4 linked regions of the Homo sapiens genome follow. The protein of the gene in region 1 interacts with the protein of each later gene in a pairwise test. Each region holds a gene or a part of one and is shown in the gene's direction. Other genes may lie near its edges.

Evidence for each region.
Region 2: the proteins of PNLIPRP1 (region 1) and SLC34A2 interact in binary tests that used the Homo sapiens proteins (3 or more experiments, as listed by UniProt).
Region 3: the proteins of PNLIPRP1 (region 1) and NEMP1 interact in binary tests that used the Homo sapiens proteins (3 or more experiments, as listed by UniProt).
Region 4: the proteins of PNLIPRP1 (region 1) and CYB5R3 interact in binary tests that used the Homo sapiens proteins (3 or more experiments, as listed by UniProt).

Annotation. Positions count from the first base shown.
Region 1 is NC_000010.11:116,600,779-116,608,099, forward strand, and holds part of PNLIPRP1 (inactive pancreatic lipase-related protein 1 precursor), read left to right. Parts: intron 1-293; coding exon 294-423; intron 424-3,251; coding exon 3,252-3,360; intron 3,361-4,363; exon of another isoform or gene 4,364-4,607; coding exon 4,608-4,775; exon of another isoform or gene 4,776-6,125; intron 6,126-7,321. UniProt on the Homo sapiens protein: May function as inhibitor of dietary triglyceride digestion. Lacks detectable lipase activity towards triglycerides, diglycerides, phosphatidylcholine, galactolipids or cholesterol esters (in vitro).
Region 2 is NC_000004.12:25,651,409-25,658,987, forward strand, and holds the start of SLC34A2 (sodium-dependent phosphate transport protein 2B), read left to right. Parts: upstream 1-4,442; 5' UTR 4,443-4,482; intron 4,483-5,055; exon of another isoform or gene 5,056-5,156; intron 5,157-7,579. UniProt on the Homo sapiens protein: Involved in actively transporting phosphate into cells via Na(+) cotransport.
Region 3 is NC_000012.12:57,061,638-57,068,958, reverse strand, and holds part of NEMP1 (nuclear envelope integral membrane protein 1 isoform a precursor), read left to right. Parts: intron 1-4,219; coding exon 4,220-4,313; intron 4,314-4,773; coding exon 4,774-4,888; intron 4,889-5,614; coding exon 5,615-5,840; intron 5,841-7,321. UniProt on the Homo sapiens protein: Together with EMD, contributes to nuclear envelope stiffness in germ cells. Required for female fertility. Essential for normal erythropoiesis. Required for efficient nuclear envelope opening and enucleation during the late stages of erythroblast maturation.
Region 4 is NC_000022.11:42,632,235-42,639,555, reverse strand, and holds part of CYB5R3 (NADH-cytochrome b5 reductase 3), read left to right. Parts: intron 1-2,709; coding exon 2,710-2,841; intron 2,842-7,321. UniProt on the Homo sapiens protein: Catalyzes the reduction of two molecules of cytochrome b5 using NADH as the electron donor.

The DNA of each region.
Region 1 (7,321 bases):
GCTTTTGCTGCTTATCATTCACCAGCTCCACTCAACAGAAGGTATAATTGATCTAACCTGGGTCCTGGGCATCAGTATTTTTTAAAGCTCCTCAAATAATTCTAATGTGTTGTGCCTAAAAGTTGGGAACCCTGATCCAGATGAAGGTAATTTAGAGATCATCTGCTCCAACCCCTTTGTTGTCACAAAGGAGAACGCTTAGGCTGTAGGAAAATTGAGTGTCTGCCCTCTCAGATGTATCGATCATACAAACACAAATTCTCCTTACAGTCCCATCTATCTCTTCTCATTAGGACAAGTGCTTCCCGTGTCCAGATCAAGGATGCCCACAGATGGGTCACTATGCTGATAAATTTGCTGGCAGGACAAGTGAAGAGCAGCAGAAATTCTTCTTGAACACAGGAGAGGCTAGCAATTTCGCTCGTAAGTTGCACTTTGACTACCTGCCCATGTAAAGAAAGTATATAGTTTCTGTTACAAATGAGGGGCTTGCTTTCAACCTGAAATATTTGTGGGTACATTTTAATTATCTTAGAAATGGACACATTTACCGAAACTATTGCAGTTACAAGTAAACTGAGGATTTAGACAGAGTGTGCATTTCTTCCGTTCTATTTCTGCGGCATGAAATGAGAGCAAGCAACTAGTATAATTAATGGGATGAGGCCAGTTTGCACATCCTTGTGACCAGCTACCCTGAATTTTTACCACTCCACAGTTCATTGTTTCTTTCCTTTTTAAGGCCGCATCAGACACACCTGTTCTCTTCATTCAGCAAAGACGTAATTGGTACCAGCTCTTTGCTGGGCTATGTCCCTTAAGAAGCCCAACTCCATTCTCTGCTTTCCCCTCTGTCTGTGCATCCCTGATGCCCAGGGGCTGCCTCGCTGGTGGAGTGCAGGCAGGAATCAGGGGGAAGGATGATTTCTCTCCAAAACCTGCTGAATGGACTAAGACACAGGGTAGAGACTGGGCATGTTTGGGCCACTTTGTACCAACCTGCCCCATGACACTTCCATAGGAGGTGACCCAGTAAAGACAGAGGTTACATATTCATATAAATGTATAACACATCTTACATAGTTTTTAAAGTCAGATTTATTGAGGTATAATTTATATTTGGCAAAATGCACGCTGTTTAGCATACACTTGTATGAGTTTGGACAAATGAATAGTTGTGTAAACACCTCCAAATCAAGATACAGAACACTTCTATCACCATATATATCACTCTGTAATTTTTTTTTTTTTTTTTGAGACGGAGTCTCGCTGTGTCGCCCAGGCTGGAGTGCAGAGGCGCAATCTTGGCTCACTACAACCTCCCCCTCCCGGGTTCACGCCATTCTCCTGCCTCAGCCTCCCGAGTAGCTGGGACTACAGGCGCCCGCCACCATGCCAGGCTAATTTTTTTTTTACATTTTTAGTAGAGACGGGGTTTCACCATGTTAGCCAGGATGGTCTCGATCTCCTGACCTTGTGATCCGCCTGCCTCGGCCTCCCAAAGTGCCGGGATTACAGGCGTGAGCCACCGCACCCGGCCCACTCTGTGTATTTTTTTTGTAAGAAGACATTGATTAATCAATCCTTCCACTGATGTTGTGATGCATGAAATACTTGCCAATATTTCAACAACAAATTAAACACTCAAAAACCAGGTATTCATTCCTCAATCAACATTTATTTATGGGCCACAGACTATGCTAGACACTGAGGATGCAGGGACGAACAAGAGACTCCTCTCATGAAATTAATAATCCAGCCAAAGACAGAAACTGGGCAAGCAACTACAAGCGTGTTGGGCTTGGTGGCTGTTGCCATGACATTATGGGACAGAGAACCTGGCCCTGACCAGAAGGAGGGTCAGGGTCAAGGTCTCTGAAGACACGAAAGATGAATAGGAGTTAGGCAAGAATCATGTCTGTGTATATTAATGTACATCTGTGCACATGTGTGGGTGTATGAATGCATGTGTGAGTGTGTTTGTGTATGTACCTTTGTGTGTATGCATGTGTTTATATACGTATGTATATGAGTCTGTATGTTTATGTATATGTATGTGCATGTGTATGTATATTTGTATGTGGGTGTCTATGTATGTGCGTGGTTAAATGTGTGTAGGTTTGTGTGTGTGTGCACATACACATGCATGTTTGTGTAGATGTATGTGTGTGTGCACATGCACATGTTGTGTATATGTATTTGTGTATGTGCACGCACATGCATGTTTGTGTATATGTATTGTGTGTGCACATGCATATGTTTGTGTATATGTATTTGTGTGTGTGCACGCACATGCATATGTTTGTGTATATGTATTTGTATTTGTGTGCGTGTGCATGCAGGCCCTGGGACAGCATTTCAGGTAGAAGCCTAAGTGACAGCTGCTCGTGCACCTGCTCTGTGCTAGAGACTGCCCAGGGCCCTGGGGAGCAGAGAGGAAACACAGTCCCCGCCCTCGAGGTGCTTGCCAGGCTGCACTCCCGAGCTACCTTCCCAAATGTGGAGACAAGCCCCTATTCCCTCTCTCTTCACCTTACCTTACTGTACTGCCATTCTGGGGCAGAGCTGGCTAACAGAACTTTCTGCAATGAGGGGCATATTCTGTGTAGCCATTAGCCTCATGTGGCAACTTAACATTTGCAACACAGCGAATGAGTTTGAGAAACTAAATTTTTAATTGTATTTAATTTGGATTTAAATGTAAGCAGCCACATGTGGCTGGTGACCTCCTCCCTGGGCAATGCAGTTCTAGAGGGGGATACTGCTAAATACATACTTCTCCATAAGGCCTTGTTTGATTTGTAGATTAACAAATAGAATTTCTTATACTTTGGCTGGGTGTGGTGGCTCACGCCTGTATTCCCATCACTTTGGGAGGCGGACACGGGCGGATCACTTGAGGTCAGGAGTTGGAGACCAGCTTGACCAACATGGCGAAACTCTGTCTCTACTAAAAATACAAAAATTAGCCAGGCGTGATGGTGTGTGCCTGTAGTCCCAGCTACTAGGGAGGTTGAGGCAGAAGAATTACTTGAACCTGGGAGGCAGAGGTGGCAGTGAGCCAAGATTGCACCACTACACTCCAGCCTGGGTGACAGAGTGAGACCCCATCTCAAAAAATAATAATAATAATTTTTTAGAAAAGAATTTCTTATGCTTTGTTGCCTCAGAGTAAGAGAAGGAGACAAGTCTGGGATGTAGGCTACTTATTTTGTGTGTGAATAAATTGAACTCTTCCATCTCCTGTGCAGGCTGGAGATATGGGGTTTCCATCACACTGTCTGGAAGAACAGCCACTGGTCAGATCAAAGTTGCTTTGTTTGGAAATAAGGGAAACACTCACCAGTACAGTATCTTCAGGTAATTTCCTATTTTAACACTACGTCTCATTTGATGATATACACAGCCTTCAAACCACACACTTAATTTGAACACTTATCATCTCTTTATATGTCACTGGTTTTTAATTATAGTCATGCAACATGTAACAACATTTTAGTTGATGGACCACATACACAACAGTTGCTTTATAAGCTTGTAATACCATATTTTTACTGTACTTTTTCTATGTTTGGGTGTTTAGATACACAAATACTTACCATTGTGTTCCAGTTGTCTACAGAACTCAATACAGTAACATGTAGTACAGGTTTGTAACCTAGGAGCAATAGGCTGTACCATACAGCCTAGGTATGTAGTAGGCTGTGCCATCTACGTTTGTGTGAGTACATGCTATGATGTCCACACAATGATTAAATTACCTAAGGACACATTTCTCAGAACATATCTCCATTGTTAAGCAACGCAGGACTATATAACTTTATGTACTGATGTTAATTGCAGACTTCTGCTAATAATTTTTCTTTTCTGTTATAAACCTAGGCATTTCGTCCTTTCTCTCTCTTTTTTTTTTTTTTTTTTTTTTTTGAGAAAGAGTCTTTGCTCTGTCACCCAGGCTGGAGTGCAGTGGCACGATCTTGGCTCATTGCAACCTCCGCCTCCCGGGTTCAAGAAATTCTCGTGCCTCAGCCTCCCAAGTAGCTGAGATTACAGGCATGTGCCACCACACCTGGCTGATTTTTGTATTTTTAGTAGAGATGGGGGGCGTTTTGCCATGTTGGCCAGGCTGGTCTCGAACTTCTGACCTCAAGTGATCCACCCATCTCGGCCTCTCAAAGTGCTGGGATTACAGACGTGAGCCACCATGCCCGGCCTCTTTCTCTTAATAGATGTTTTTTTAAACATAAATCTAATATTACTTCAGATATGCTGTTTTCTGATTAGTGCAATAACACATGCTTATTGTGCCATACTATGTGGCCAATTTGTTACTGTACAAATAATTCTTCCAAAACATATAAAATGATATGCAGGAATTCTATTTTATTTTCTATTAGAAAGCTTTAAGGAAAAATTAACTTGAGTTTTAAAAACCATAGTTTGAGGTGCTAGCATATAGCTGGCTTTTCCATTTCTCCATCCTTTATTTGGAAATTAATTCGGAAAAATAATCCTGTTAATCTAGAAGAGAAAACAGCAGCCTGGCATTGTATGGTAATTAGAACTCATTTCCGTGAACAGGGATGTTTATGTTTCTCTATTTCAAGGGGGATTCTCAAACCAGGCTCAACCCATTCCTATGAGTTTGATGCAAAGCTGGATGTTGGAACAATTGAGAAAGTCAAGTTTCTTTGGAATAACAATGTGATAAATCCAACCCTCCCCAAAGTGGGTGCCACCAAGATCACTGTGCAAAAGGGAGAAGAGAAGACAGTGTATGTATCTTTGCTGGCTGGTGCCTAAAAATGTTTGCAGAGATTCATGTTATAATGAAAACCCACCCTAGAAAGTTACGTGTAGTTAAGCAAGAAAAGCCAAGAAAATTTACCCATCTGTGGCCCCTTCTCCCCAAACAAGCAACTGACAAACAGCATAAAATGTTTCTGTTGGGTGCACCTTATTGGGTGTTCTCAGCACTGCCTGTGGGAATACAGAAGATAAGGCTGCACTTTCAAGGTAAAATGAGAAAATACAAGAAAGAGAACAAGAAATCCTTTCTGAAGGGTACAAGTTTATAAGTATGGGCTAGTGAATAGCTATACTTGAAAGAGGAGAAGACCAATTACATTTCAGGATAATAAAACGGAAAATAAATCGGTTTTAGGAAAAGATCGAAAATTTTACATAGGACAAGAATGCACTAGGATTGCAATACTTGTGAGATCCTGACCTGTGGTCTCCCTGGCTTTGGGCCTGAATAAGCACAGGGCCGTGGGTAGGAAAAAGGGACGGCTGGAGGAAAGTTGGAGTGGTGACCTGAGAGGGCAGAGCGACTGTCTCTCAAACCTCAGACCCCAAGTCTGGCTAGTAGAACATGTGGCTTTGTGGGAAGGAGATCCTGGGCTCTCAGCCACCGATGTTCTTGAAGTTTGGGGTTAGGTGGAGTCACCGAGTTCAGGTCCCAGAGATTGTCACTCCCCCAGGTGGGGAGGGTGGGGTGGCAGAGTAGAATGGGGGCTGACTCCACATCTGGGTCTCCTCGAACTGGATGACTTAGTGAGGTTCTCCTTATCCCCACGAGGCAAGGAGAACAAAGAGGTTGGCCCTGCCAGGTGGTGGGTGGAACCAGGAGGCCTCATAAGCTAGAGCATAGTACAGAGGAGGCTGGGCCGGGCTGGTCGGGAGCCCTGTGCAAGCTGGAGGTGCAACCAAATCCTTTCCTCCCTGACCCCATCAGAGGATACTCAGCCTCTAAATTCAGCTCCCCAAGGCCCCATTAGCAAGCATCCCATGGCCTGGATCCTGGGACTGTGTGGTTAAAAACATGTCAGGTGGTGGCATCATTGGAATCTTAAAAATTAGAGGTGTTCCCAGGAGATGACTTGCTCACAGGTAAGGCATACAAGTCCAAATCAGCCAGGGCATTGCATCTTCCAGGTTTTCTGAGGAAAGGCTGAGGCTTTCTGAACTTTCTGCAAATGGAACAGAACATACTTAAGGCTGCACCTGAGGTCCTGTGCCCATCAGCTGTCACCTGCATTCCAGTGGCTGAGTGCAGCTCCCCTCGCTGTCTGCTCCAGAAAGACTCTTTCTTAAGAGCAGCTGGATATAAGACATCAGGTTTTCTAAACAGAGGAAAGTCAAAACAGCTTCAAATCTCTCAAACTAGTTTGGGAAGTAAAAACACTGAATTAGTTGAATTACTCAAACATTTTCCTGTTATGAAAATGGCCAGTAACATTTAATAATAATAATAATAATAATAATAATGAAGAAGCTAAAGAAAATCAAGATTTTGGTCCAAGCTCTTCTCAGAATCCCCTCATATTTTTTAGTAACCTCATTGGGGTTTCAATTCCTACTAAGGAATCTGCCGACTAGGATTCCCTCCAATGACACAGTATCCAAAGAGAAAGGCAGCCCTCCCCCTCTTTATTTCTCCGTCCCCCTCTCTTTATTAAGTACCTTTGGTAAATGTACCCTTGCAAATGACTTTATTCAGTACCTATTGTATGGCCTGGCAAACAGTAAGGGATGCAAACACTGAGCCTACACTCAAGGAGCTTACAGTTCAGCTGTTGAGAAAAATCAGACTTATGGTTCACAGGGAAGGTCAAAAGACCAAATAAAGAACTCCCAGGAGAGGCTCAGAAAGACAGTGGCCAAGGAGGAAAGCAGAGGGCCGCGGGGAGGCTGTGATGGAAGGAAGGGCAGCTCTCAGGATGAGGCAGGGAGTAGGAGGGAGGAAGGGCACAGGGGCAGGGCAACAGGTCCAAGTGCATGAGGGGCGACAGGGCCCAAGTGCAGGGAATATGATCGGAGGCCTCCGATGCCAAGTTAGGGCTTCTTGGCAGAAAAAATGAAACACAGAAGAGAAAGTGGGAAGGGGCCAAGGAACACCAGTGAGGAAATGGGGCAAAGCTTCCGAGCTCACAGGTGGTGAGGCCTGAGAGAAGTCCGTGGTTCTTGAACAACCACAAAAATAACTGCTTACATCTGCATTGTTTTTTGTTAATTGTAAGACTTTTTACATTTACCATCATGGGATGTTACGTTCTTATCATGGAATTCTCAACAGTCGTGGGAGAATGACTGAGATGGAATCTCGCTCTGTTGCCCAGGCTAGAGTACAGTGGCATGATCTCAGCTCCACTGCAACCTCCACCTCCTGGGTTCAAGAGATTCTTGTGCCTCAGCCTCCCAAGTAGCTGGGATTACAGGCATGCACCACCACGCCCGGCTAATTTTTGTATTTTTAGTAGAGACAGGGTCTCACCATGTTGGCCAGGCTGGTCTCAAACTCCCGGCCTCAAGTGATCCA
Region 2 (7,579 bases), on another chromosome or scaffold:
TCCAGGCCTATGATAATGCTTTACACTCACTGGCTTGCCAAATAACTTATAAACTATACAAACTTTATTATCAGGAACTGTTATATTTAATAACTCAGGCAAAATATTCACATACTCTTACCAGTACTAATAGTCATTACCATGATTGATCTTTTAGGCTGTCTTTGACAAACAGAAATGGACAGTGTCGTACGGTTCCAGCATTTAACCTCTCCTCCACCTCAATCTTACTTCCCTACGTTTCTCTTTGCCTCTTCTTTCTCACTTAGTTTTGAATCAATTATACTTTGTCGATCTGTTAGCTGTCTTAGATCCTTTTAGGAGCAGCATACAAATAGAAAAATACAGTCTCCCATATCCCACAACCAAATATAACCACAATGAACATTTTTGTGTATTGCTTTCCGGTATTTTTCTCTGCATATTTATGTACATATTGAAGCCAGGTTGAAGACAGCCTGTAATTATGTCAGCCCTGTGTTCTGTTCCGTTAGCATTTCTCCATTTAAACCTGACTCTTTGAAGTCCAGTGCTGTCTCATGACTAGATAACACATTATTTGACTTTTCTGGAATTCTGGCTGTATCTAAGGGGATAGGTTTCCTGTCACTGAGCCTGACTGAACAATTCTGAGATTATCAACACTGCCATAGGGCCCCGAAAAAGCGTCTAATGAATGCAAAAGTTCAAAGCGGTTTTGTTCAGGTGTTATTTTTGGAGACACTTTCTCAGGCTTTTATGATGCAATCCACTTTGTGCCCCTCTCTTGCAGCAGCTGCGGCCAGGGAAAAAGCACTAAGTGGGCTTGCTCACTGGTCCTCAGGGGTGGGTACCCTGGGCAGGTCAGCCCAGAAGTCAGCTGCCTCCTCTCCAGGCCCTGCCTGGACAGCTGAGAGTCAAGCAGACAGTTATGTGCCATCCCTACCTCTTTTCTGTCTTCAGTAACTGGCAGCTTCATCCTGCCAGAGAGTTTGGAATGAGCTAGGACTTTCCCATCAGTCTGAACTCCTGGGTTTTCCCAGGCCTGGTGACTCAGAGGGTAAGGCACCGAGCCGAGGAAGAGAAAGGAGAACCTGGACTCCTGGGTGCCTTTGTCTCACCACACAATCACCTCCCAGGAAGGCTGTCATCCAATCACTCCTGTGGAATCTCTCTGCCACTTTGTTGTAAAGAAAGTCAGCCCCAGTGAAGGGTAAAAAGAAGTGCCAGAGGGCCTTGGGGACAAGCCATATACTGGTAGAAAGGGCACTGGGGCAGGGTCCGAACAGCTGAGAGTATGTCTAGCACCAGGATGAAAATCAGTAGTTCACAGAGCTGCTTTGTTTGACCTACTCCGTATTTTTTTAATGGTACATTTCACATAAAGACCTGTATATCTGGCTTCCCCACAAAAGTCAAGATCTGACAGCATCTGACTATATTTTCTCATGCAATATCTGAAGCTGGGTAGCAGCCAGCCCTGGATGGGGTGTTTCCTCTCCAGATTAACACAGAGCCTACCAACTTGTTAAATCTCACCTCATAGGACAATAGGCGCAAAAATATACTGAAATGAGTTGAAAAAATGGTAATACTTTTTTTTTTTGAGACAGAGTCTCACTCTGTCGCCCAGGCTGGAGTGCAGTGGCACGATCTTGGCTCACTGCAAGCTCTGCCTCCCAGGTTCATGCCATTCTCCTGCCTCAGCCTCCTGAGTAGCTGGGACTACAGGCACCCGCCACCATGCCCGGCTAATTTTTTTTTGTATTTTTAGTAGAGACAGGGTTTCACTGTGTTAGCCAGGATCATCTCGATCTCCTGACCTTGTGTTCCGCCCGTCTCGGCCTCCCAAAATGCTGGGATTACAGGCTTGAGCCACTGTGCCCGGTTTGGTGACACTTTTTTGATGAAAGTATTTTTTTTTAATTTAATTTTTTTGAGACAGATTCTTATTCTGTCATCCAGGCTGGATTGCAGTTAGCTCTCACTGCAACTTCCGCCTCCCGGGTTCAAGTGATTCTTGTGACTCAGCCTCCTGAGCAGCTGGGATTTTTTTATATTTTTAGCAGAGACGGGGTTTCGCCATGTTGGTAGACGGGTCTCCAACTCCTGGCTTCAAGTGATCTGCCTGCCTCGGCCTCCCAAACTGTTGGGATTACAGATGTGAGCCACCACACCCAGCCTCGATGAAAGTATTTTAGATGTTTGTATTTATACATAAGGCTCTATGTTTGAAGTACTAAATGGTGAGAGTATTTTGTATCTCAGATGGAATAACGATAGGAAAATGTTCTTCAGCAAATTGTACTCTCCTAAAGGGAGAGATTATAGAGTGATGAACACAGACACGCCATCTACCTTTCCTCCAGACTTTGTAAAAAAAAATTATATAAATTACAATCCCAAACTAGAATCAGATACCATCCCTGATCTACTACCAAGATCTATACACATTAAGAGAACAATGTTCGGGATTGAACCTGTTTTGCCTTTTTAATCGGAACACAAAAGGGATACCTTTTTCTTTCTCCAAGTTTTTGAAATTTTGGTCTCCCTCCTACATTCACTCCTTGTTGAAAGTAATGGAAAGGCAATTAGGTCTGTGTCCCAAATGAAAGCCCACAGTCAGGAGGGGATTCTCATTGAGGTGACTGTCCTGTTAAGACCTGCTCCTGTGAACCCCCAAGCACAGGGCAGAGCAGGACATGAACTAAGAGCCAGGCTTTGCCGAATCCGGGTCGAGTTCACCGACAGCAGTGTGTGCAGCACGCTTCCTCCTCTGCACCCTGGCAGTAGAGCCCTTCCTCATTGTAAAGCCAAGTGGTGTCTGCAGTCCGCCTTGCCCAGGGCTGGAGGCAGAGCTGAGCTTGGTGAACAGGTGCCAGGGGATTCCTGTCATCAGTGGACTATGCTTTAGAAGCTGCTTGTTGCAAAGGTACTGGTTGATCATTGTCTGAGAGTTGGATCTGAAGGCCAACACCCACTAGCAAAACCATCATCCCTGTAATAACAGCAACCCAAGCAGATTTGATTTCTCCAGTGAAGGTTCTAGATGAGTCTAATCAAGGCTTCCCACCCATCTTCTCCCAACACCAGAGTTTCCCTGTGAAAACGATCATGGTTAACTCGCACTGAATACTATTTATGTGCCAAGTACCATTCCACATTCTTTACATATTTTAGCTCACTTTACTCCAACGGGGACCATTATTCCCAGTTTGCACATAAGCAAATGGAGCCAGGGAAAGCAAGGGGCAGAACAGGGAACTGATTTCCCGGAGTTTCGGCCCAGAGTCAGTGTGCTTAGCCACCGCCAACACCAGCCCCAGAGCTCTAGGCTCCTGGAAGTCGTGCTCCCGAGTCCTTCCCCTTGCACAGTGGAGAGAACTCGATGTTGGAATGAAACCAGCTAATTCCAGTAGGGTGCTTCCGCTGTTGTGAGGAGCTGGGCAACTAGTAAGCTCACTGAGCCTCACTGTGCTCCACTATAAAACCAGGAGAGTGCGCAGCAGAGGAGAGGGTCTGGGTTTCAGAATAAGAAGCAGGTTTTCTTCCTGCTCAGCAAATCCTGGGTAATTGTATCATATCCCCTAACCCCTTAAACCTCAGCTAGAGAGGGCGCCAGTCTTAGCCCCAGGGAAGGCTTTCGTGTGCACATTGGAGACAAAGCCTGCCCAGCAGTGCCCGGCACAGAACTGGGGAGCTGTTGGGATAAGCATGGGGGTGGACTCTCCCTGGGACAGATCCTATCTCACAGCAGTTTGGAGAACTGTTGTATACACACGCAGGTGACACGAGGCAGAGCAGGATGTGAAACGAGCGCAGTGGTTTGCCAAACCCGCAGCAGGCTTAGGACGGAGTGGTGAGAACAGCCCCCTTCCTTTTCCTCAGCTTGACGGTCCCAGCCTTTCCCATTGCGGACCTAGAGCCCAGACTCCCAGGGCAGAAAGCGCCCCACAGACTGATAAAGGTGAACAATCCAGGCTTTGTTTCCAAGGGCTTTATCCCTGACTTTCCAACTGGCTTTTATCTGTGTCTTCACGTCTCTGACCTCTTGAGCCTCACAGGAGCTAGACTAGAAGGTTCAAGTTCTTGAGGAGAAGGCAGGGGCGGGAGAGCCCCACTTGCGGGAATCTCGTGCGGACCGAGTCGGGGCGGGAGAGGGCGCGCACCAGCCAGGCTAGGGCGCGCGGGGCGCCGAGGGGCGCGGGGCCGTTTGGGGCCGTTCGGGCCAGTTCGCGCGGCGGGGCCCGTCGGAGCTTTTCTCTCGGCAGCCTGGCTGGCCGCGCGTCTTCTCCGCGCAGCGGGCGAAGTCGCGATGGGTTCATTAAGGCGGCAGGTAGGCAGTGCCCCGGCGGCGGCTGCGGCAGGCGGTCCTGGAATGTGCGAGGGGCGTGATGACAGCGGCCAGCCTCTTTGCGCAACACCTTCGCCATATATACCCGGGGCGCTGCGCTCCACCTGGCCGCCGCCTCCAGCCCAGCACCTGCGGAGGGAGCGCTGGTGAGTACCGCCGCCGGGGCAGGGGCGCTTCCTCGCTCTTTCAAGGACTTTGATTCACTTAATTCTTGCAAATACCTCTCGGTGCTGACTTCAAGGAACTTGGCTGGCTTTGGGCCGCAGAAGTGAAAAACACAAAGCTCTCCACAATGTTCAAGTTGTTTTCTTCTTAATGTTACGGTTATTGCTTTTATTACAGCTTTTGCTGCTACACTCTTACGATCGACAGTGTTATTAATCAGCCACACTTGTGGATTCTAAAATGATCACTGTTTTGAGAGTCGTGGTTTGGAAGAGGAAAGGCCCAGGGGATAGAAATCTCCACCTAGGAATCAGGATAGCTAGGCTCTTTGTGGCTGGGTCACCAACTAGCCATGTGACAACGCTAGTCCCTGTGAGCCCCTGGGCTGCCGTCTTCCATTCTTTATAAGAAGGGGAATGCGACATCTCAGGACCATGAAAATTCTAGGTTTGTGGTGGCTGCCTGGTGATGTGACACTGCCCCCCACCCAAGTGTGACTTCCACGTGGTACAGTGCTTGTTTGCAGTTATTTAAGGTGCCTAGGAGACAGTCTTAGTTTGTTTCTATTAGGGCCCGTGGCCATCAGCGAAGGGTCCGTCCTTCAGCCGTCTTGGGGAGCAAAGCCCGCAATTTATGTTTTCCAAGCCACAAATGGGTGAGCAGGCTGGGGAGATAACTTACAAGGAGATGTGCACAGGAGTGGTTGGGTTCGGGGACTGCGCATCCTCAGGCCAGAAAGTTGGGGGCTGCATGGCATGGAGTTAGTTCAGGTTCCCTGCAACGGTGCCTGCCACCGGTGGCTCGCACTGCGCTGAAGAGAGTTGGAATCTCGTTTTCTTTGAGGAGGTCCCTTTTTCAAACATGTTGATTTCATGGAAGCAGCTTGTGGATTTCATCACTCGAGTCCCCTCTTCCTGTTTGGGTGCCCCAGGGGGTTTCTGTGTTAGCCCTGATCGCTCTGGGCCTTGTCGTTCTTTCCTTTTTCCTTCTTCCCTTGTGTGCTGGCAGTTCTTTAACTTGTCCTGGGTTGGGTATTCTTGGAAAACTGTGCTTGTAGGAGTGGCCGTTGTTTCAGATTGTTAAAGAAAAACAAAAATAAAAAAGATTGCCTCTTTTGTCCCATGCCCGCTGATCATGATCTTCTCTGCTTTTGTAATTTGGGGAATGGGTGATAAGAAAGGCGTGCTTTGTAAAAGGTTTGGATGCTAAACAAATTGCCCCATCCAAAACTCCCCAAATTGCTCAACTGTCTCAATGAAGCAAGTCCCCTGTGGTATGAGGATGGGCTTCTGATTGTTGCTGTTAGACACAAAGGGGACAAAAAAATAGCCCGAATTCAATGCAATGAGGAAAACAGCCTCACAGAATCAGAGTGCTTTGGAATAAACTGGGCTTTAGTAACCAGTTTCAGGCATCTTCCACTCCTCCATCCTCACCCACACCCCCACTTCCATTCTGGGGACCGCAGGGAGCAATCAGGACATCCCAGGGAATTTATTCATCTCAGTGAATTTTTAAAATGCAAAGGTACAAAAAGAGGGCTATAAAAAGATTGCGGTATTTTTAAGATGTTTATATTTACAAATTTAACTGCTTTAACCTCCCCCCCCAATACAATGCAGCACAACTGATATAGTTACAAGTTATTTACAGGATTTATTTTAAGATATCATAAATACAAATTGATAGTGCATGGTGAGGGTGTGGTTTGGTGATATGGCCCAAGTTTAAAGTTTATTAGTGTGCCACATCAAAAATGTAAACTCAAGTTATCTATCAATGTGAGGCCCAGGCCAATTGCTTCCTTGACTCCTCTCATCACTACCACCATTGTGTCCTTGAAGAGATTATTATTAGCAGTAATGTAGGGACAGGGTCTCACTATGTTGTCTAAGCTGGTCTCAAACTCACAGGTTCAAGGGACTCTCCCACTTTGGCCTCCCAAAGTGCTGGGATTATAGGTGTGAGCCACCACCCTTAGCCTATAGGGGTGATTATTTTTCCTTGTGATGGCTGTAAGGGAAGCAGAGGAAAAGGAGACGTCACCCTCTTGGGAATTTTTGAAGCACAGAGTCATTCTTTCAAAGTACAAGAAAGTTTTCCTGGGCATCCCGAGAACACTGGCCTGCATGAGGTTGAAATTATCTCTGCAGTGTTGTGGTGCCTATGTGATTTGAAGCCATTAACCTCTCTGTGGCTCAGTTTTTCCCTCTATAGAATGAGGATACTGTTCATTTTAAAGGAGACTCTAAGTTTACATAGATACATGAAATGCTGTGAGTAAATTTGTGCACCAATTTGCAAGTGCCAGGCACAAAGTCTTTAATAAACACTACTTGGCTACCATGTGCCCAGCACTGTCCTATGTGCTGGGGATACAATGGCCATACTCTAGTCCCTGTGCTTGTGAAGGCTGCCATTCTGATGGGAGACTGTGTGTCCATGTTCTGGTTCCTCACAGGACCACTGCCCTGGGCTTCCTCCTCTCCCCATTTCTTCAGATGGCCTTGACTGCTGCTCTGGGCACAAGGGGCCCAGGAACAGGTCTTGGTTGGAGAAGCCCAAACAATGCGAATGTAGGGGTTGGGTGACTGCCAGGTACCCTACATTCCCCTGCTTCCCAAGTCTGAGCCAAGTCAAGAAAGTTCCTCTCCTGGGTCTTCAAGAAAGAATAAGAGCTCTTTCTGGCAGTGGGTGCCCATGTGGTGCAGGAAGTGGAGCCAAGAGGGTGAGGCACACAGGCAACTCGGTTATAGAGGCCAGTGTGGCAGCGGGGGAGCCCCTCCCTGGGCTTTAGTAAAAAGCTTCCAAATGATGACTTCTCCCTTCCTCTGCTGCTTCTGGCAGGTGGCAAGAATGTGCTGGAGTGAGGCCTTGGGAAGGCTGGGAGAGAACAAGGCAGTGGTTGCGCCAGGGCTATGGGGGTAGGAGAAAGGCTTAGAGGGGCTCAGAGCTCCAGGGTACATTCTCTGCCTGCACCATTTAATACCCACCCCCACCCACCCACCCCACCCCCACCACCCTCCCCTCCTGCTCATCCATTGCAACATTCTTGGGCGGGCATTTCCAGCATCTGAA
Region 3 (7,321 bases), on another chromosome or scaffold:
TTCTATTGCTAGAAGTAATGTGTTAAGGTGTCATCTTTACAGGTCCATGGGTTGATGAGTTTCATTTTGTTCAGACGTAAAGAAACAAATAGCTTCTGGGTACGGTGGCTCACGCCTGTAATCACAGCACTTTGGGAGGCCAAGGCTGGCGGATCATGAGGTCAGGAGATCGAGACCATCCTGGCTAACACGGTGAAACCCCATCTCTACTGAAAATGCAAAAAAATTAGCCAGGCGTGGTGGCGGGCGCCTGTAGTCCCAGCTACTTGTGAGGCTGAGGCAGGAGAATGGCGTGAACCCAGGAGGTGGAGCTTGCAGTGAGCCGAGATCGTGCCACTGTGCTCCAGCCTGGGCAACAGAGCAAGACTCCATCTCAAAAAAAAGGAAACAAATATCACAGCTCAGCCTGGGCAACATGGCAAAACCCTGTCTATACAAAAATTAGCTGGACGTGGTGGTATGTGCCTGTGATCCCAGTTACTCGAGAGGCTAAGGCACGAGAACCGCTTGAGCCTGGAGGCGGAGGTTGCGGTGAGCCAAGATCACACCACTGTACTTCAACCTGGGCCACAGAGGGAGACCCTGTTTAAAAAAAAAAAAAAAAATCAAGTGTTTATTCATTTTTTCCTTTAGGAACCTACTAGTTAAGACAGGTGAGACTGACATGTACAAATATGAAGAAAATATATAGGTAACTAAATAAACATTGAATGAAGGTAAAATCAACATTAAGTTTGTATACAAGTAAAAAGTATTTGTGGAGTAGTGAATGCAAGATTAACAATTGGAGTTTGAAGTTGGGCTGGAGTGGGGTTGCTGGAAGTTGTTATTTTGGTGATGCTGAGAGAAACAGGGAGGAATAACTGGTAGAAAAAATCTGGAATGGGGGGCTGGTTGTGGTGGCTCACCCCTGTAATCCTAGCACTTTGGGAGGCTGAAGGGGGAGGATAACTTGAGCCCAAGAGTTTGAGACCAGCCTAGGTAACATAGTGAGACCCTGCCTCTACAAAAAAATACAAAAATTAGCCAGGCATGGTTGTGCATGCCAGTAGTCCCAGCTACTTGGGAGTCTGAGGTAGGAGGATCACTTGAGCCCAGGAGGTTGAGGCTGCAGTGATCCGTGATTGCACCACTGCACTCCAGCCTGGGTGACAAAATAATAATATTCAGGTCGGGAGAGATGATGGGGATGTGAATAGGACATTACGTAAAGGCTGATTATTGGGAAATACATGAGGGAAGACCTTTAATCCTAATCTTCATAATCTGGCAGTAACTACATAGCATCAGTCTCTACAGTTCTCTGACCTCAAGTTTTGGGCAAATATAGTCACACATCACTTTATTGTACTTCACTTTTTTGTGGTTCACAGATAGTGCATTTCTTTCCAAATTGAAGGTTCGTGGCAACCCTGGGTCAAGCAAATCTATCACACCGTTTTCCCAACAGCATGTGCTCACTTGGGGTCTGTGTGTCACATTTTAGTAATTATAATATTTCAAACTTTTTCATATGATTATAACTGTTATGGTGATCCATAATCAGTGATCTTTGATGCTGCTGTTGCAATTATTTTGGGGCACCACATGTCCATGTAAGACAGTATATTAGTTCATTTTCTTTTTTTTTTTTTTGAGACAGAGTCTCGCTCTGTCGCCCAGGCTGGAGTGTAGTGACGCGATCTCGGCTCACTGCAAGCTCCACCTTCCGGGTTCATGCCATTCTCCTGCCTCAGCCTCCCGAGTAGCTGGGACTACAGGCACCTGCCACCACGTGCAGCTAATTTTTTGTATTTTTAGTAGAGACGGGTTTCACCGTGTTAGCCAGGATGGTCTCGATCTCCTGACCTCATGATCTGCCTGCCTCAGCCTCCCAAAGTGCTGGGATTACAGGCGTGAGCCACTGCGCCCAGCCTATTAGTTCATTTTCATACTGTTGATAAAGATACCCAAGACTGGATAATTTATAAAGAAAAAGAAGTTTAATGGACTCACAGTTCCTGGTGGCTGGGGAGGCCTCATAATCATGGCAGAATGCAAAAGGCACATCTTACATGGCAGCAGGCAAGAGAGAATGAGAACCAAGTGAAAGTGGAAACCCCTTATAAAACCATCAGATCTCATGAGACTTATTCACTACCATGAGAACAGTATGAGGGCAACTGCCCCCATGATTCAATTATCTCCCACCAGTTCCCTCCTACAACACGTGGGAATGATGGGAGCTACAATTCAAGATGAGATTTGGGTGGGGACACAGCCAAACCATATTAGACAGTGAACTTCATCGATAAATGTCATGGGTGTTCTAACAACTCAACCAATTGGTTATTCCCGTCTCCCTTCTTCTTGGGCCTCCCTATTCCCTGAGAAACAGCAATATTGAAACTAGGCCAATTAATAACCCTAGAGTAGATTGTGAGTCTTCAACTGAAAGGAAGAGTCATACATCTCTCTGATTATGCTTAGTGAGAACAGCAAAAGCCAAGACAGACCGAAAGCTAGACCTCTTGTCCTGAGCAGTTAGCCAAGTTGTGAGTGCAAAGGGAAAGTTCTTGAAGGAAATTAAAAGTGCTACTCCAGGGAACACACAAGTGATAAGAAAGTGAAACAGCCTTATTGCTGATATGGAGAGAGTTTTAGTTGGCTGTTGAGAAGATTAAACCAGATACAACTCTTTTTTTGTTTGTTTGTTTGTTTTTTTGAGACAGAGTCTTGCTCTCTTGCCCAGGCTGGAGTGCAGTGGCGTGATCTCGGCTCACTGCAAGCTCCGCCTCCCAGGTTCATGCCATTCTCCTGCCTCAGCCTCCCTAGTAGCTGGGACTATAGGCGCCTGCCACCACACCCAGCTAATTTTTTTGTATTTTTAGTAGAGACAGGGTTTCACCGTGTTAACCAGGATGGTCTCGATCTCCGGACCTCGTGATCCTCCCATCTCAGCCTCCCAAAGTGCTGGGATTACAGGCTTGAGCCACCATGCCCGGCCAGATACAACTTTTTTAAAGCTAAAGGCTGATCCAGAGCAAGACCCTAACTGTCTTCAATTCTGTGAAGGGTGAGAGGTGAGGAAGCCTCAGAAGAAAAGTTTACAGCTAGTGAAGGTTCTTGGTTCATGAGATTTAAGGAAAGAAGCTGTCTTATTACATAAGTGCAAGGTAGGCTAGGCGTGGTGGCTCAGGCCTGTAGTCCCAGCACTTTGGGAGGCTGAGGCGGGCAGATCACTTGAGCCCAGGGAGTTCGAGACCAGCCTGAGCAACATGGTGAAACCCTGCCTTTACAAAAAATACAAAAAAGTCATGGTACCAGCTACTCGGGAGGCTGAGGTGGGAGAATCACCTGGGCCCAGTAGATCAAGGCTGCAGTGAGCCATGATGACGCCATCGCACCCCAGCTTGGGCAACAGAGTGAGACTTTGTCTCAAAAAAAAAAAAAAAAAAGATGAACCAAGCACTGATATAGAAGCTGTAGCAAGTTATTCAGAAGATCTAGCTAACATCATTGTTGAAAGTGGCTACAATTAAAGAGCTCCTCAGTGTAGACAAAATAGCCTTATACTAGAAGAAGATGCCATTGAGGACTTTGATAGCGAGAGAGAAGTCAGTGCCTAGCTTCAAAGGAGGGGTGATCCTCTTGTTAAGGGTTAATGCTGTTGGAGGATTGACTCCAGTTTTGAAAGAAGTTGTGGTAAAATGCTATCAGACAGTATTGCATGCTTTAGAGAAATCTTCATTGAAAGGATGAGTCAATGCAGCAAACTTCATTATATTTTAAGAAATTGCCACAGCCACTCCAGCCTTCAGAAACCACTGCCTTCATCAGTCAACAGCCATCAACATGGAAGTGAGACCCTCCACCAGCAAAAAAAATGATGACTCACTGAAGGCGTAGATGATCTTTAGCAGGTTTTAGCAAAGTATTTTTAATTAAGGAATATATATTTTTAAGACATAATGCTGTTGTACACTTAATATACTATAATATAGTGTAAACAATTTTTATATGCAGTGGGAAACCAAAAAATTTGTGTGACTTACTTACTGCAATTGCAATATTTGGTTTATTGCAGTGGTCTGGAACCAAATTTGAAATGTCTCTGATGCTTGTACTGCTCTAATCTTGTACCTTTTAAAATCTTTCGGCTGGGTTAGTTGTCCTAGTTTCAACAGTGCTATGTATGAAATATATACATATGGTCATGAAATACATTTTTTTCCTGCAGAAGTCAAATTTTCTACTACTCTACTGGGATGACTGTGGGAATTGTGGCCTCTCTGCTAATCATCATTTTTATACTATCTAAGTTTATGCCTAAGGTAAGTATCAGAATCTTCATGTGCAGCTAGAATGAATTTGGATAGCTGAAGGACTGTTTTCCTGGGTAATCTTAGAAAACTGAAAATGTGTATTGATGGCTGATGAGTCAATATCCTACTCTCCTTGATTCAGAAAGGTACTTTCCACGATGAAACTTGGAGCCTGATTACAAATTCTTTCTTTTTATATAAAATCCTGTGCTCAGAGGGGGATTAAAGTCTGCTTCCTGTTTTTTAATTATATAGCCAGGCTTTTAAGTTATTTAGCATTTCATCTTCCCAGTGTTCGTTGCAGACTGTACCATTTTAAGTATAAAGGACATCTTTTTAAGAGAAGTGTTTTTTGTGCATTTTGAGTAGGTTGAATTTTTTAAAAAAAAAATCATAGTTCCATTTTGCTTCTTTTATGTATGGAAAGCCTGTTGTAACTTTTTGCTTTCACTTCTACTCTCTGTCTTAGAAAAGTCCCATTTACGTCATCCTGGTGGGAGGCTGGTCTTTTTCTCTGTACCTCATTCAACTAGTTTTTAAAAATTTACAAGAGATCTGGAGGTGTTACTGGCAGTATCTTTTAAGTAAGTGTTGTCGGTTTTGCTTTCCTTTTGTACGTTTATAGGCTGTTTCAGTTAATTTGATCATGAAAAGATTTTGCCTGCTTATGGGATTTAATAGTTCATGTCATTTTTTTAAACTTTTAAAAATCATAGTTTTTCACTTATTTCTAATCCCTCTACAATTATCACCTTCTCTTAAATTAGAATGGTGCTGTTAAGGCGAAGATGTTCATTTATTGGTATTTATAAATATACCTTTCTTTACACAATAAACATCTTTCTGAAAAGCTGTAAGTTGACTTTATTAATGGAATCATATTTTAAATATACTTGGGGACCTTAAGTAAAAGACTCCGCAGTTAATTTTTTTCTCCTTCATTTCTGAATGAACTGCTGTAGATTTTATTTACAAAGTAAAAATCCTTGGTCATATAGATAGTAACCTTTGAGTTATCCTTTGAAGGGTGATTAATCTGGATTTCTGTATATTGGTTTTTTAAAATAGTCTATTTCAGGGTTGTTCAACATGTACCTTTAATGTTCTGTTTGAACCAAATAAATTTGGGACAGCAGAAAGGATAGAAACTTAGAGAAATATATTCTAAGAAAAAAGTGTGAAAAATTAAGTAAAAATCTGATTTCCTAGTTCAATTGGTGCTATATAGTAAATTAACTACTGCTTCCCACACAAATTATTTTTACCAAGTATAGATGAAAAAGAATGTCTTCTGATAACTCTTCTCATAGGTTATGTCCTCACAGTTGGATTCATGAGTTTTGCAGTATGTTACAAGTATGGGCCCTTGGAGAATGAACGAAGTATCAACCTGCTGACCTGGACCTTGCAGCTGATGGGCCTGTGTTTCATGTATTCTGGCATCCAGATACCACATATTGCCCTTGCCATTATCATCATTGCTCTTTGTACTAAGAACCTGGAACACCCTATTCAGTGGCTGTACATCACCTGCAGGTGACTGAAAGGCAATGTAACTTAATATTGACAGGTACATTGTGGGATGCAGTTGCAGCAAGAGGATACAGAGGTGTTGACCTGGGAGCTTCTTTGTTAATGAAAAGTCATTGTATTGTACTTCCACTTTTGTTCCTTCCCGAGTCTATTTTTTTTTTTTTACTTTCTATAGGAATTTTTATATTTTTATTCTAGTCATTTTATATAAAATGTCTAGTAAAATGTCATGTGTTCCTGTTACCACAAGGTGGTGCAAATTCTATCACTGTTTTTTTGAGATGGAGTCTCGCTCTGTCGCCCAGGCTGGAGTGCAGTGGCGTGATCTCGGCTCACTGCAACCTCCACCTCCCGGGTTCAAACGATTCTTCTGCCTCAGCCTCCTGAGTAGCTGGGATTACAGGCATGCGCCACCACATTCAGCTAATTTTTATATTTTTAGTAGGGTTCCCCATGTTGACCAGGCTGGTCTTGAACTCCTGACCTCAAATGTCAGGAGTTCATAAAGTGCTGAGGAGCTCCCAAAGTGCTTGGATTACAAAGTGCTGGGATTACAGACATGAGCCACTGCGCCCCGCCACAAATTGTATCGCTTTTATACCGTATGCTCATTGAGGTCTCCTGGGTTCAGATTTTTTTTTTGAGACAGAGTCTCTCTCTGTCACCCAGGCTGGAGCACAATGGCGTGATCTCGGCTCACTGCAGCCTCCACCTCCCGGGTTCAAGTGATTCTTCTGCCTCAGCCTCCCGAATAGTTGGGACTACGGGTGGGCGCCACTATGCCTGGCTAATTTTTGTATTTTTAATAGAGATGTGGTTTCACCATGTTGGCCAGGGTGGTCTCAAACTCCTGACCTCAGGTGATTTGCCCACCTCAGCCCCACAAAGTGCTAGGATTATAGGCGTGAGCCACCTCACCCAGCCCATTTCAGACTATTTCTCAGTGGCTTTCAGATTGCTCTGGAGGTCTTAGTCTTATTTTAAGATGTAATTCATAGCATGTTTTGTCACCTTGCATAATAAATATGGAATGTTACTAGGTCCTGAAGTTGTCTATTATAGATAGTCAAGGTGATGCTTTCAGTTTGGGAAACCAAGTTACTGGACCACAATCTTTTTTTTTTGAGATGGAGTCTTGCTCTGTCACCAGGCTGGAGTGCAGTGGTGCTATCTCAGCTCACCGCAACCTCTGCCTCCTGGGTTTAAGCGATTCTCCTGCCTCAGCCTCCTGAGTAGCTGGGGTTACAGGTACATGCCACCATGCCCAGCTAATTTTTGCATTTTTATAGTAGAGATGGCGTTTCACTATGTTGGCCAGGATAGTCTCAATCTTGACCTTGTGATCTGCCCACCTTGGCCTCCCAAAGTGCTGGGATTACAGGTGTGAGCCACCTTGCCCGGCGTTTTTTTTTGTTTTTTTTTTTTTTTGAGATGGAGTTTTGCTCTTGTTGCCCAGGCTGGAGTGCAATGGCATGATCTCGGCT
Region 4 (7,321 bases), on another chromosome or scaffold:
CCTGGGTTCAAGTGATTCTCATGCCTCAGCATCCTGAGTAGCTGGGATTGCAGACGCCCGCTACCATACCTGGCTAATTTTTGTATTTTTGGTAGAGACGCGGTTTTTCCATGTTGTCCAGGCTGGTCTCCAACTCCTGACCTCAGGTGATTCACCTGCCTCGGCCTCCCAAAGTGCTGGGATTACAGGCGTGAGCCACCGTGCCCGGTCCCCCCCCACTTTTTTTTTTTTTGAGACAGAGTCTCGCTCTGTCACCCAGGCTGGAGTGCAGTGGCACGATCTCAGCTCACTGCTACCTCCGCCTCCCAGGTTCAGATGATTCTCCTGCTCCAGCTTCCTGAGTAGCTGGGGTAGCCTGCCACCACACCCAGCTAATTTTTGTATTTTTGGTAGAGACGGGGTTTCACCATGTTGGCCAGGCTGGTCTCGAACTTCTGACCTCAAGTAATCTGCCTGCCTTGGGCTCCCAAAGTGCTCAGATTACAAGTGTGAGCTACAGCGCCTGGCCTTTTTTTTTTTTTGAGATGGAGTTTCACTCTTGTTGCCCAAGCTGGAGTGCAATGGCACGATCTCGGCTCACTGCAACCTCCATCTCCTAGCTTCAAGCATTTCTCCTGCCTCAGTTTCCTGAGTAGCTGGGATTCCAGGCATGCGCCACCACATCCAGCTAATTTTTTGTATTTTTAGTAGAAACTGGGTTTCACGATGTTAGCCAGGCTGGTCTTGAACTCCTGACCTCAGATGATCCCCCCGCCTCAGCCTCCCAAAGTGCTGGGATTACAGGCGTGAGCCACCGCGCCCGGCCTTTTTTTTTTTTTTTTTTTTTTATGGAGTCTTGCTCTGTCTCCCAGGCTGGAGTGTGGTGGTGTGATCTTGGCTCACTGCAACCTCCTCCACAGGCAACCTTCTGCCTCAGCCTCCTGAGTAGCTGGGATTACAGGCATGCGCCACTGTGCCCGCCCAGGGATTCAGGTTTTCTAACCAACTTTTAGGGTCTTTTTTTTTTTTTTTTTCAACAGAGACAGAGTTTTGCTATGTTGCCCAGGCTGGTCGCGAACTACTGGGCTCAAGCAATCTTCTGCCTCTGCCATCTGAGTAGCTGGGACCACGGGCGTGTGACACTGCAACCAGCTAACTTTTTTTTTTTTTTTTTTTTTTTGAGATGGAGTTTCACTCTTGTTGCCCAGGCTGGAGTGCAATGGCATGATCTTGGCTCACTGCAACCTCCGCCTCCCAGGTTCAAGCGATTCTCCTGCCTCACCCTCTCAAGTAGCTGGGATTACAGGCACCTGCCACCACGCCCGGCTAATTTTTGTATTTTTAGTAGAGATGGGGTTTTACCCTGTTGGCCAGGCTGGTCTCGAACTCCTGACCTCAGGTGATCCACCCACCTTGGCCTCCCAAATTGCTGGGATTATAGGCGTGAGCCACTGCACCGGGCCTACAACCAGCTAACTTTTTATATTTTTTGTAGAGATGGAGTTTCACCCTGTTGCCCAGGCTGGTCTTGAACTCGTGGACTCAAACTGTTCACCTGCCTCCGCCTCTCAGAGTGTTGGGATTACAGGCTGGAGCCACTATGCCCAGCCCCCTTTTAGGGCCTTCAGGAGACTGAGATGTCGGGGGCAGGGGCTGGGGAGGAACAGCCCCTCAGGGCCGTGTGGCAGGGTCCACTTGGTCATGAGGTATCCCAGCGTGGTATAAGGGATGGGTGGACTCTGGGTCAGCTCCTCACCTGCCAGCTGTGTGACTGGGTGAGTCGCTTTGCCTTTCTGGGCTGTTTCCTCATCTGCGAAATGGTGGTGATGACAGTGCCTACCACACGGGGTTGCTGCGAGAGCCGTGCCCGTGTGGTACCCGACGTGGCCCTGGGATCCCAGAGGCTGTTGGCTTTGGTGATCTGAGCTGTAGGGTCTCAGCTCTGGGGGCCTTGCAGATCACCTGGTCCACTCAGGTTGAGAGGGGAAGGGACTTTCTCGGGGTCACACAGCCAGTGACCTTCCCAGTGCCTGGCTCAGTGCTTCGCTTCCCCTTACACCTGATGGCAGAACCCCAGGGCTCAGGGACACTCATGGATGTCATTTGGGGGAAGTGGCTCAGTTTACTCAGCTTCACTGGCTTGTTCTAGTGTGCTCTGTGGGAGAGCAAAGAGGAGAGCATCAATCCCAGTGGCCCCAAGGGACTGGATTTAAAGGTGCCATAGAGCCATTTGGTCAGTGTAGGCCTTTCAGATAGATTCTGAGTTGGGGTTATTATTTGTCTGTTTGTCTAAATCAAGCTAGAACTTGACATCACTTAATAAGACCAGGGAAGTTGACTGAAGGAAGCAAGAGAAGGAAGGAGCACAAATACATTATGCTCAAGATTAATTTTACTCTGAGCTTCCTAGTAGCCAAAGTGAAAAAGGATATGTGCTTAGACCCACAGCTCTTTTTGGTCCTGGCTCTTCAGAGGAAATGGAGCTTTTTCTCATGGTACTGAGCATAGAAGCCCAGGTAATGCTCAGTGACAGGTGTCATGAGGCTGGTCTTTATAGCTTCTCCTAGTGGGCACCAAAATGGATGATGAAGCTTTCTGGATGAGGGTGGTGGGGAGAGGGTGCTCCTGGCAGAGGGGGCAGCGTGAGCAGAGGCCTGGTAGTGTGGACAAGCCGGTGTGTTTGGGGAAAGGCAGGCTCCTGCACTGACCCCGCGGGTCCTGTCGTTTCAGTTGGGCCATATGGTGCTCTTCCCAGTCTGGTTCCTGTACAGTCTGCTCATGAAGCTGTTCCAGCGCTCCACGCCAGCCATCACCCTCGAGAGCCCGGACATCAAGTACCCGCTGCGGCTCATCGACCGGGAGGTGAGTGCCGGCCGCCGCCGCTGCCTCGTCAGCATCACAGCATTGCCCAGCACCTACTCTGTGCTCAGGGCATGGTCCTGCTCTGAAGTAGATACTGTTGTCCACCCATTTTACAGATGGAGAAAGCAAGGTGATGTCTCTTGCTAAGGCCACCAGGAAGTAGCAGAGGAATTTAAACCCTGGTCTCTCTGTCCACAGAGCCCCTTCTCTGAACCACACTCACTGCCTCATGCAAGGTCAGAATGGAAGGAACCCCTCAGAACTTTTAGGTTCAATCCCCCATTTATGGGGTAGGAATGCAGGGGGTGAGAGATTTGAAGATAAGGTCTCCTCCCTCCTCCCCCTCCCCCAGAGTCATTCCCCACAGCCTGGTACTACTGGACCTGGACACCTTTCACATCTGTGCAGATTCCCTGGGTGCTCTGAGCTGTGTGGGCTTCCTCTGCCCTGTTTGATTCTTACTTTCTTTCATTAGTGAGTTCATACTTTTTTTTTTTTGAGACAGAGTCTTGCCCTGTGTCCCAGGCTGGAGTGCAGTGGTGCGATCTCCGCTCACTGCAACCTCTGCCTCCCCAGGCTCAAGTGATTCTCCTACCTCAGCCCCCTGAGTAGCTGCGATTACAGGCGTGAGCCACCGCGCCCAGCCTAATTTTTGTATTTTTTGTAGAGGTGGGGTTTCGTCCTGTTGCCCAGGCTGGTCTCAAACTCCTGGGCTCTAGTGATCCCCGCACCTCCACCTCCCAAAGTGTTGGGATTACAGGCATGAGCCGTGGTGCCCGGCCTGACTCCTTTTTTTCAAAGCTCTGATTATGATTTAAAACCATCCTCTCCCTCTTTTGCCTTGCCCCCAGTAAAGGCTGCTTCCATCGGTCACTTGCCCTCTTCAGAGCCCCTCCCTTGCTCTATTTCTGGCCACCCCCAGCAGGCACAGGAGGGGTGTGGCAGGGAAAACTGAGTCACAGCAGAGAACATCATCTGCCAGGGCCCAAGTCTCCACCCTGGGCTTGTGCCTGGTGCCTCTGACTCAGGCTTCACAGGAATCTCAGGCTTCCATGGCACGGAGCTGGCCGTTTCCTGTAACTGTTGGGGCAAGTGTCTGTAATTGTCCCAGGAGCTCACAGAGAAGTTGACAACCAGAGAGAAGCAAAAAAATACAAAATGAAAAGTAAATTATTGGCCAGGCACGGTGGCTCATGCCTGTAATCCCAGCACTTTGGGAGGCCGAGGCCGGTGGATCACCTGAGGTCAGGAGTTCAAGACCAGCCTGGCCGACATGGTGAAACCCCATCTCTACTAACAATACGAAAATTAGGCCAGGCGTGGTGGCTCACACCTGTAATCTCAGCACTTTGGGAGGCCGAGGAGGGCAGATCATGAGGTCAGGAGATCGAGACCATCCTGGCTAACACGGTGAAACTCTGTCTCTACTAAAAATACAAAAAATTGGCCGGGCGTGGCTGGGCTCACACCTGTAATCCCAGCACTTTGGGAGGCTGAGACAGGCGGATCACAAGGTCAGGAGATTGAGACCATCCCGGTAACACGGTGAAACCCTATCTCTACTAAAAATACAAAAAATTAGCCAGGCGTGGTGGCAGGCACCTGTAGTCCCAGCCGCTGGCGAGGCTGAGGCAGGAGAATGACGTGAACCTGGGAGGCGGAGCTTGCAGTGAGCCGAGATTGCGCCACTGCACTCCAGCCTGGGTGACAGCAAGACTCCGTCTCAAAAAAAAAAAAAAAAAATTAGCTGGGCGTGGTGGCAGGCACCTGTAGTCCCAGCTACTCCAGAGGCTGAAGCAGGAGAATGGCGTGAACCTGGGAGGTGGAGCTTGCAGTGAGCCGAGATCGTGTCACTGCACTCCAGCCTGGGCTACAGAGCAAGACGCTGTCTCAATCAATCAATCAATCAATCAATATGAAAATTAGCCGGGCGTGGTGGCAGATGCCTGTAATCCCAGCTACTCCAGAGGCTGAAGCAGGAGAATGGCGTGAACCTGGGAGGTGGAGCTTGCAGTGAGCCGAGATCGTGCCACTGCACTCCAGCCTGGGCTACAGAGCAAGACGCTGTCTCAATCAATCAATCAATCAATCAATATGAAAATTAGCCGGGCGTGGTGGCAGATGCCTGTAATCCCAGCTACTTGAGAGGCTGAGGCAGGAGAATCGCTTGAACCTGGGAGGCAGAGGTTGCAGTGAGCCAAGATCACACCATTGCACTCCAGCCTGGGTGACAAGAGCGAAACTCTGTTTCAAAAAAATAAAAAATAAAAAGCAAAAAAAAGTAAATCACCACCTCCCAGATGAGACCACACTTAACCTTGCGATATGATTTTTTGTTTGTTTGTTTGTTTTTGAGATGGAGTTTTGCTCTCGTTGCCCAGGCTATAGTGCAATGGTGTGATCTCGGCTCACTGCAACCTCTGCCTCCCAGGTTCAAGCGGTTCTCCTGCCTCAGCTTCCCAAGTAGCTAGGATTACAGGTGCCCACCACCACGCCCTGCTAATTTTTTTTTTTTTTGTATTTTTAGTAGAGTCAGGGTTTCAACATGTTGGCCAGGCTGGTCTCGAACTCCTGACCTCAGGTGATCCACCCGACTTGGCCTCTCAAAGTGCTCGAATTACAGGCGTGAGCCACCGTGCCTGGCCCTGTGATATGTTTTATACTTATGTAAGCAGGCACACATGTTTTTTTCTTACCCAAATGAAATAATAACATTTTGAAACCTGTTTTTTAACGGTATTTTCCCTTGTTATTGTTATTGGTGGGTTGTTTTGTTTTTGTTTGTGTTTTTTTAGAACAAGGTCTCGCTCTGTCACCCAGGCTGCTTTCTGCAACCTCAAACTCCTGGGCACAAGCCTTCTGAGTAGCTGGGACCATGTGCATGCACCACTATGCCTGGCTCTGTTACTGTCGTTCCTTTTTGTTGTTGTTGAGATGGACTTTCGCTCTTGTTGCCCAGGCTGGAGTGCAATGGCACAATCTCGACTCACCGCAACCTCCACTTCCCAGGTTCAAGTGATTCTTCTGCCTCAGCCTCCCAGGTAGCTGGGATTATAGGCATGCGACACCATGCCCAGCTAATTTTGTATTTTTAGTAGAGATGGGGTTTCTCCATGTTGGTCAGGCTGGTCTCGAACTTCGACCTCAGGTGATCCGCCCGCCTCGACCTCCCAAAGTGCTGGGATTACGGGCATGAGCCACCACGTCTGACCCTACTGTTTCTTAATTCCAGAAATAATGTATGATTTATATGTGCTCACAGCAAAAACTCTGTAAGGTATGACCTCCACCCCTGCCCCATTGCCGCATCCCAGGGCCCCGTGCAGAGGGCCCAGGTCACAGCTCAGCGTGAGCCTGCCAGACCCTATGTGGGTATCACGTTCATACACGGGTGTGTGGAGGTGCGGGTGTGTGCACACTCAGTTTCTTTTTTTGATAACCTGGTTTTGTAGCCAGCCATACAACATGGATCCTTTTAGTATTTCATCATAGGGATGTTACACAAGGGAGCATGTGGCAGATGTCCTAGGATTGCAGCTTTGCCCCCTCATTGTGCCCATGGTGGCTTTGCGGGGTCCGCAGCGGGCCTGCTCTGGGTGCTCTGTGCTTTGCCCCACCCTGCTGCCCTACTAGAGGTTGGCCAGCACCATAATTGTTCATCTCTTGTCCTCATTTCTATTCTTTTTTTTGAGACAGAGTTTCACTCTTGTTGCCCAGGCTGGAGTGCAATGGTGCGATCTCAGCTCACTGCAACCTTGCCTCCCAGGTTCAAGTGATTCTCCTGCCTCAGCCTCCTGAGTAGCTGGGATTACAGGCATGCGCCACCACGCCTGGCTAACATTGTAGTTTTAGTAGAGACGGGATTTCTCCATGTTGTTCAGACTGGTCTCGAACTTCCGACCTCAGATGATTCGCCCACCTCGGCCTCCCAAAGTGCTGGGATTACAGGCATGAGCCACCACGCCTGGCCATCTCATTTCTATTCTTCCTCCAAATATTTTCTGGTACATGGGTGTCTGACCTTGACCCTTAGGACCAGTTGATAGTCCTGGAATCCACTTCCAGAAGGCCTTGGGGCTCTGTTTGCCCCTAATGCAGAAGCTTCTGGTAGAGGCAGCTTTGAGGCCTGGGCTGCCTGGGAGAGGTTGGTGGGCCCCCTGCACACCTGATCCTGAGTGGCGTTTGCACCGTCTTTCCTGCGATTTGCCTCTGCTCACACGTGTAGGGACGGGTCTCTCCTTGAGGCAGCTGCTCTGTGCTGGAACACTGCTCAGGTCGGAGAGTTCTCGTACTGAGCCGAGATGGGCATCTGTGATGTCCTGCCCTGTTGGAGAGGTCTGTTGTCCCCCTCTAAGTGATGACACCATCCACATGTGGACTTTGCCACGTTTGGATGTAAGCGCCTCTGCAGCGCCGACCTTCCGCATGGCTTCTTCACACTCCCTCTCCTGGCCATGCTGGGTACTGGGGACCCCACAGG